2 separate regions of the Homo sapiens genome follow, and region 1 is linked to region 2. Evidence: fine-mapped expression QTL. A gene starts in region 2. The other region holds a variant in brackets. All regions are shown on one strand. Distances are between the middles of the regions. Region 1 overlaps DECR1 (2,4-dienoyl-CoA reductase 1). Region 2 holds the start of DECR1 (2,4-dienoyl-CoA reductase 1).

Region 1 (4,399 bases), 38 kb after region 2:
TTTTATAAATAATGTTTTCCTTATGTGTAGTGATACATCTATATTGCTAATCAACTGTATCCTTTTAAAATTTCAGGAGCAGCATTTCTTTCTATTACTACTATCTATGCTGAGACTGGTTCAGGTTTTGTAGTACCAAGTGCTTCTGCCAAAGCAGGTGTGGAAGCCATGAGCAAGTAAGTACTTCCTTGTCAATCCTGTTGCTGAACATAACTAATACAGTTGGTGGCTCAGGGAACTGTATTCCTGCTTTCTGGTGTCCATCCAGAGAAAAGTAAACAAAGACTTGGATTCACCATGAGACATACATTTTATCTCCCAGATAAGTCCTATTTGTCTATAGCAGCGCTGTCCTGTGGAACTTTCTGCAGTGATGTAAATGTTCTGTAAATATGCACTATCCAGTATCCACATGTAGATATTGAACCCTTGGAATATCCCACTGTGACTGAGAAACTAAATTTTAAAAATTAGTAGCTGTATATGGCTAGTGGCTACATATTAGACACCACAGGACTATAGCTTTTTTGCTCTCCCATAGATCTTTATCAGTGCCATCCCTAACCCCTCTCATAAGCACACGTTTATTCTTTTATTGTAGATACTGTATAAGATTAATGGGACTAACACAGACTATGAGCACTTCCCAAGTCCAGTGGCCTTTTCTCAGCAGAGTATAACTGCTTTTTTTTTTTTTTTTGAGACAGGACTTCAGTCTGTTGCCCAAGCTGGATTGCAGTGGTGCAATCACAGCTTATTGCAGCCTTAATCTCCCAGACTCAAGCGATCCTCCCACCTTAGCCTCCCAAGTAGCTGGGACTACAAGCAGGTGCCACAGCGCCTGGCTAATTTTTAAAATTTTTTTGTAGAGATGAGGTCTTGCTATGTTGCCCAGGCTGGTCTGGAACTCCTGACCTCAAGAAATCCTCCTGCCTCAGCCTCCCAAAGTGCTGGGATTACAGGCATGAGCCACTACACCCAGCCATGATTGCTTTTTGAATTTGTCCTCCACTGGCCTTTTCCATTGTCTTTATTATAATGGGGCTTCTCATCATTTCATTGCTTGTCTGGCTTGCTATAATCATGGTATATTTCTTTACTACCAGTCTCTTCCCCCTGTATTTTGTATTCACATTTTCACCAGAATTATCTTTCTAAGAACATATATGTCTGCTCACGACACTCCCCAGCTAAAAATCTTAGATCATTTCCTGTCACTCTTTGGAATAAAAGCCAGAACTCACTATGGCATTCTAAACAGACTTGTCTCTGGCCATTGTTAATTAATTTATTTATTCAATAAATATTTATTGTGTACCTTATATATGCTTCGTCCTAGGGATATGATAGTGATGGAAATAGAACAGTCCTCGTTGTTAGCTGAGCTTAAATTTTTTTACTATTCCATTTATTATTTCCATGCTTTAATTTCCATTGAACTGTTCCATGTTTCCCTAAACTTACCATACAGCTTTCATATGTCTATGGCTGAGTTATATTGTTGTTGGAATTTTGCTGTGATGTTTTGCTTACTTCCTTTGAGATGTTTTCTCTGTAATCATTTCCTCCTCTCTGTGCCTTAAAACTTTGTTTAATCCAATCTAGTGAGAGGACAAACACTAATAAATAGATTCTAAAATGAAGGTAATATACCAATGTAGCAGAGAGAGAGAGCAGGGCATCGCGGGCCTTTTTTTTTTTTTTTTTTTTTGAGACGGAGTTTTGCTCTTGTTGCCCAGGCTGGAGTGCAATGGTGCCATCTTGGCTCACCGCAACCTGTGCCTCCTGGGTTCAAGCGATTCTCCTGCCTCAGCCTTCCAAGGAGCTGAGATTACAGGCATATGCCACCACACCTGGCTAATTTTGTACTTTTAGTAGAGATGGGATTTCCTCCATTAACGTAACATTAAACAATCTGACTTCCCCACTTGGACCAGAAGAGTCTGGTCCGTAGCTGGTGCTTCATGCTTGTTGAGCTGAATTATGGTACTCTTCTTTTAGTAGTCCCAGAGCATTTTTAATATTTAAGTCAGTAAATACACATTAGTTTGAGATAGAAAGAAATATTTATTCACAAGCTGAATCTTAGTCTGAAAAGAGATAATTACCATTTTTTAAGGTCAGGTAGTGTTGGAAATAAAGGATGAGAACTTGACTATTTTGGCAGCATTTGTTCAATGTCAATATTTGTTTTGTGAGGACTCTTCAGTCTTGTTAGAGCTTTTTATCTCATGTCCTTTAAGAACTGATTTGGTGCTGCTTTTATTGTGTTCCTGCATATAATAGATGCTCATTAAACATGTGCCTTCCTTTACAGCTTGAGTTCCCATCAACCTTCTTCTCATACTTTATAGTACACAGTCTTACTAAATAAGGCATTATAGGTTCCCAAATTCTACATGTTGTTTGGGCCCTTGTCCTTTACTCATACTGACCCATATGCCTTGGCTGTCTTCCTTCTCCATCTGTATTAGTCCGTTCTCACTCTGCTATGAAGAAATACCTGAGACTGGGTAATTTATAAAGAAAAGAGGTTTAATTGACTCACAGTTTCCACATG[G/A]CTAGGGAGGCCTCAGGAAACTTAGAATCATGGTGGAAGGCACCTCTTCACAGGGCAGCAGGAAAGAGAATGTGTTCCAAGTGAAGGGGTAAGCCCCTTATAAAACTATCAGATCTTGTGAGAACTCACTCACTATCATGAGAACAGCATGGGGAAAACTGTCTTCAGGATTCAGTTATGTCTACCTGGTCCCACCCTTGACATGTGGGGATTATTACAATTCAGAGTGAGATTTGGGTGGGGACACAGAGCCAAACCATGTCACCATCCTACCTTCTTAATCTCTCAGCTCCTCCTTTCCCCTGCCTCTTGCAGCAAACTCCTAATCCTTCTTCACCCATCAGCTCAGAATGTTACCTTTTCAGAGAAGCCTTCCTTGTCACTCCCACTTAGGTTCTTCTTCTTTTAAGCAGGTATAGCTTACATCACACAATTCCCAGCCTAGTAACTGATTCATTATATAACCAGGCTCACCTCTCTTGAGAGGGAGGGACTCTCATTTGAGAGCAGGGACTGACTTTATTTGAGGCTAAGCAATATTTATAGTATTGACACATGGTAAGTATATAATAAACATTGGTTGAATGAGCAATAATAATGGCTAACATATTGCATATATTGTTCTTAGCATCTTAACATGCAGAGATAACTGTATGAGGTGGATTCATTATCAGATTACAGTAGTTCTTCAGTATATCAGCTAGCTTAATGACAGTTGAAAGATCATGCTAGCAATTGAACAAATGTATCTGGCACACCTCTGAGCACAGAGAGGATGGCTTTTCCTCTAGGCAGATTTTCTTAACAGGTTGCTCAGTTTTTCATAGGATAATATAGACTCTGCTCAGTACAGTAATTCTATTAAGACATGAAGCAATTTAGAGTAGATACACTATAAATAAATGCCCAGGGTAGCTATGGCAATGAACTTTGTCAAAAACATCACTCAGAGAAGCAATTTTTATGTATGTTCTGTCTGAAAGAGATACAGCCCACCCATTTCTCTAAAATACATTCATGGATTAAGTCAGATTAACAGGCTATCTTGAGATTACGTGTACCCTATTCTGTAGAACTGGTTTTACTGAATTGGCCTTTGAAATGATGCTATAAGACTATTAACGGATGTCTGATAGTTTCATAGAACTTAGCGCATTTTTAAAATTATACTTTAAGTTCTGGGATACATGTGCAGAATGTGCAGGTTTGTTACATAGGTATACATGTGCCATGGTGGTTTGCAGCACCCACCAACCCGTCATTTACATTAGGAATTTTTCCTAATGCTATCCCTCCCCTAGCTCTCCACCCCTTGACAGACCCAGTGTGTGATGTTCCCCTTCCTGTGTCCATGTGTTCTCATTGTTCAGCTCCCACTTATGAGTAAGAACATGCAGTATTTGATTTTCTGTTCCTGTGTTAGTTTGCTGAGAATGACAGTTTCCAGCTTCATCCACATCCCTGCAAAGTACATGAACTCATCCTTTATTATGGCTGCACAGTATTCCATGGTGTATATGTGCCACATTTTCTTTATCCAGTCTATCATTGATGGGCATTTGGGTTGGTTCTAAGTCTTTGCTATTAAGAACAGTGCTGCAATAAACATATGTGTGCATGTGTCTTTATAGTAGAATTATTTATAATCCTTTGAGTATATACCCAGTAATGGGATGGCTGGGTCAAATGGTATTTCTAGTTCTAGATCCTTGAGGAATCACCACACTCTCTCCCACAATGGCTGAACTAATTTACAGTCCCACCAACAGTGTAAAAGTGTTCCTATTTCTCCACATCCTCTCCAGCATCTGTTGTTTCCTGACTTTTTAATGATTGCCA
Region 2 (4,399 bases):
CTTGCTCTTTCTTTTTTAAATAAAGAATTTCCCAAAACCCCCTTTGGAAAAAGCATAGGTTACAGATGCTCTTGTGAGTTGCATTTTTTTCCCAGACATGTTCTCAACCTTGGCTAAATGATCGCTAACCCACAGAGATCTGCCTCAGTCACTTTTTGGTTTGCAGTCCCAAGTCAGTTGATTTTAGTTAATCAAAAAGGGGTTAAGACTATTTTCAGTGGGCCTCACTTAATCTGGTGATTGTCCTTAAAAGATGGGCTGGGGCCTCCCTGAGGTACAGAATTGTCCTTGCTGGCTTGATGTAGTAAGCAGTCTGCTGAGGAAGCCCACATGGGAAGGGATGGAGGTGACTTCTAGAAGCTGAAGGCAACTCCAGCCAACATCCAGCAAAAATGTGGGGCTGTCAGTTATATGGTTATGAGGAAAATAATTCTGCAAACAATCTGGATGAGCTTGGGATCAGATCTTCTCCAGCTGAGCCTCCAGATAAAAACAGCCTAGTTGACACCTTGATTGCAGTCTTCTGAGACCCAGAGCCAAGGATCCAGCTAAGCTGTGCCTAGACTCCTAACTCCTGGGAACTGTGAGATAATAAATGATTAATTGTTTTAAGTTACTTATTGTGTTACTCCATTCTCACAATGCTATAAAGAAATACCTCATACTGAGTAATTTATAAAGAAACGAAGTTTAATTGACTCACAGTTCTGCAGGCTATATAGGAAGCATGACTTGAGAGGCCTCAGGAAACTTACAATCATGGTGGAAGATGAAGGGGAAGCAGGCTGTCTTACACAGCTGGAGCAGGAGGAAGAGAGAGGGTGGGAGGTGCCACACACTTTTAAACAACCAGATCTCCTGAGAACTCTATCAGGAGAATAGCACCAAAGGAAGAAATCTGTCCCCGTGATCCAATCACCTCCTACCAGGCCCCAATTCCAACACTGGAGATTACAATTCAACATGAGATTTGGGTAGGGACACAAATCCAAACCGTATCACTAATGTTGCAACTTCTTTTTAGAAACAAGATGAATCCCACTTACAATTTGGTTTGGAAGTCAAGAATAACAGTGCCATACATATATCAAGAGCTTAGGAAAAGTTTTATTATTGATATATTCTCAAGGTTTTTTTGGGAGGACAGAAAATGCCTCCTAAGCTGGTCTAAAAGTTATTTAAGAGGGCAAGTGTTCTGGGCTGAATTGTGTACTTCCCTCTTCTCCCAGCCAAATATATACATTGAACTCTTAACCCCCAGTATGTCAGAATGTGGCTATATTTGGAGATAGAGTCTTTAGGGAGGTAATTCCAGTTAAATTAGGTCATTGAGGGTGGGCCTTAATCCAACACGACTGGTGTCCTCATAAGAAGAGGCAATTTAGATATGGAAAGGTACACAGGAGGATCATGTAAAGACACAGGGAGAAGATGGTCCCACAGTGGCTCCACAAGAAACCAACTCTGCTGACTTGTGGCCTCCAGAATTGTGAGAAAACAAATTTCCATTTAAGCCACCCAATCTGTGGTAGTTTTGTTCCTGGACCAAACTGAGGGTCAGGCTGCTATTTCTTGCTGCCAATAATGAGATGTCGATGAACTGGGGATGAAGAAAGTTTTTATTTCTGTAACCAGTTACAGGCAGAAGGCCTGGAAATTATCACCAGACCAACTCAAAATTACAAAGTTTTTCAGAGTTTATATACCTTATAAGCTATATGTCTACATGTAAGTGTACATTCCTCTGAAGATATAAATGTTTCTTTATCAGCATTTGGAACATGCCAGGCAAATAGTAAACACTCAATATCATCTACCATCAGCCTCAGCCTGGGGCCTCACACCCATCTTCTTTTATCTAAAATTCTGAATTAGCTATGAATATTCTCATTTTACGAATGAGGAAAGAAATGTGATCTGAGCTAATGCCTTGTGTCAACAGGTATATTACACTAAGATGGAGAATGATATACTGAATCTGTGTTTGCCTTTAACGTGTGTTTAACTTCGAGAAAAAAGCCAAGGCTGGGCGGTCGCAGTCACGCTGCATCCGGCGACAGGGGGCGGTGTGTCCTGCGAAAAGTCAAAACGCCGGAAGCTGCCCTTAGTGTTTTTCAGCCTCTTGGTCTTAGGGAAAGTGAGGCCGTGTTTTACATCCAACATATTATTATTCTGATAATATGTGACTTGGCGCCACGCGCACTCTGCACTTAAACACGCACTTAAGGGATAAACACATACGACTGAAAAAGAGTTTCGCCCTTGATAGGCAGTGTATGGGGTGCGCAGCTGCAATCTGCAAACCCTTGCAGGGCGCGGGGTTTCGTACACCCGCTCAAGGACGCAAAGAACCTCCATTCTCTGCCATACAAAGCACTCCTGGCCCAGAGAGCAGGAAAGAGCATCAGCTAGGCCCAGCTAGGCGGCGCCCTCGGCCGGACTCTGAAGGTCAGGGCCGCTGGGCGTCCACGCCGCCTGGGTCCCAGTCCCCGTCCCATCCCCCGGCGGCCTAGGCAGCGTTTCCAGCCCCGAGAACTTTGTTCTTTTTGTCCCGCCCCCTGCGCCCAACCGCCTGCGCCGCCTTCCGGCCCGAGTTCTGGAGACTCAACATGAAGCTACCGGCCAGGGTTTTCTTTACTCTGGGGTCCCGGCTGCCCTGTGGCCTCGCTCCTCGGAGGGTAAGGCGGCCGGGGGCGCGGGGAGCGAGGACAGGGCGTCTCGACGCGCAAAGAGAGAGGACAGGGCGTCACGGGGGCTCGGGGAGCGAGGACAAGGCATCCTGGGGCGCAAAGAGAGAGGACAGGGCGTCCCGGGGGTTCGGGGAGCGAGGACAGGGCATCCCGAGGCGCAGAGAGAGAGAGGACAGGGCGTCCCGGGGCCTCGGGGAGCGAGGACAGGGTGTCCCGGGGCTCAAAGAGAGAGGACAGGGCGTTCTGGAGCGCTAAGAGAGCACAGAGCAACCCGGGGAGCGAGAGAGAGGACAGGACGTCTCGGGGCGCAAGAGAAAGGGCAGGAAGTCTTGGGGCACAAAGAGAGGACCCGGCGTCCCTGGGGCTCAGGGAGCTAGGACAGGGCGTTTTGGGGCGCAGAGAGAGAGGACCACCAGGTCCCGGAGCGAAGGGCAACGCCGGGAGTGAGCACCGGGGCCCGGGTCGTATTCCACTGTCAGATGAAGCCCTGATGTGTGTAGGGGAATAGGGAAGAGACGTGATTTTCGAAGTTTTCACAGTTCTGCAAGTTTCCAACTTGTGTGTAAATAGGTAGAAAGAGGTAGGGAAGGATACGGCGCCCGTCCACCCCTTAAGGAGTGAGAGGGGATCAGGCCGAGCGAGCACTGACCTTTGACGTCCTTTGTTGTGAGGAAAGTCCATCTATGTGTTAGTTATGGAATTAAACACTAATACAAACAAATTATCATAAAAATGAAACAAAAACAAAACCCCAGCTGTTTATAGACTCCCCTTCCCAGATGTATAGCTGGGAGAGGTCCGTCTCACACTGGCTTCCCCCTCTCTCTGGCCCACACTCCTGTCACCATCTCCATTGCACCCATAGTGGAAATAGCTAGGAAGTGAAAACAGCTAGGAAGAAGAAAGAGAAACAAAAACAAAAAGAAGCAATAATATCCAAGACAAGCCCTCCCCACATCTAAATTACAAAATTGTTATAAGTAAACTAAAAAGCACATTTTCTTTAGCCAGGTAGAAAAATTAATATGTCAACTGTGAAAAAACTTCTTTTGATTTGATAGAATAGACAGCCATGGTGTTGTTTTTCAAAAAATATGGGCAGCAGTAGTTCCAAATAGGAATACAAAGAATTAGTATGGTGGTTCCCTCAAGTAAGGTATCTTTCTTTTAAAAAGTGAGATTTGTTCAGGGTTAGGGTTTTGCTGATTTTTTTTCTCTCCCTGTGAAAACTGGGTTATAGATCATTATAAAGGAAGCCCATATTTTCTGATACTTTTCAGAGACATTTCTCATTTGAAATCTACAACAGCTCTGTGATGTCTTCAGAGATTTCATTTTTTAACACACATCATTAGGATTGTAGCAATAAGGTCATACAGACCTTATCCAAGCTCTTCTGACACCATTAGACAATACAGTTTGAGAAGGAGAAAATGAACTCATTTAAAAATTAATTGTAATCTGACAATTTTGAAATTCCTTTGCTGAAGAAAAATATGGAAGTTTTGAGGTTCAGGGTTGGGAGGCAAGAGAGGTACCTGTTAGTGTGGTTTGTCCCCTTCCTAGCACATGTAGCCTCAAGTTTGAATTCCTGGGAGAAGAAAAGTCTTTACATCTGTGATGTGGGAGGTTGTTCCAGGGAACATCATGTTTTTGTGGGCAAATACAAGTTGTTATAATTAAAACCCCTAATTTGAATATTTTTGTTA

The links. PIP is the estimated chance that this variant, and not a neighbour inherited with it, causes the effect.
Region 1: its variant is the best candidate, but not a certain one, in a credible set for the expression of DECR1 in whole blood (TOPMed, PIP 0.71).

The regions. Positions count from the first base shown.
Region 1 is chr8:90,036,765-90,041,163 of GRCh38, forward strand. DECR1 (2,4-dienoyl-CoA reductase 1) reads left to right here. Exons shown (of 10, transcript NM_001359.2): 6 at 77-176. Among named protein-coding and RNA genes, the nearest start is that of DECR1, 37 kb to the left of the region's middle. The variant G/A (reference allele first, on the strand shown) is at 2,561.
Region 2 is chr8:89,998,884-90,003,282 of GRCh38, forward strand. DECR1 (2,4-dienoyl-CoA reductase 1) reads left to right here and starts at 2,594. Exons shown (of 10, transcript NM_001359.2): 1 at 2,594-2,678. The coding sequence starts at 2,610. RefSeq lists enhancers at 1,938-2,232, 3,081-3,220 and a silencer at 2,511-2,610.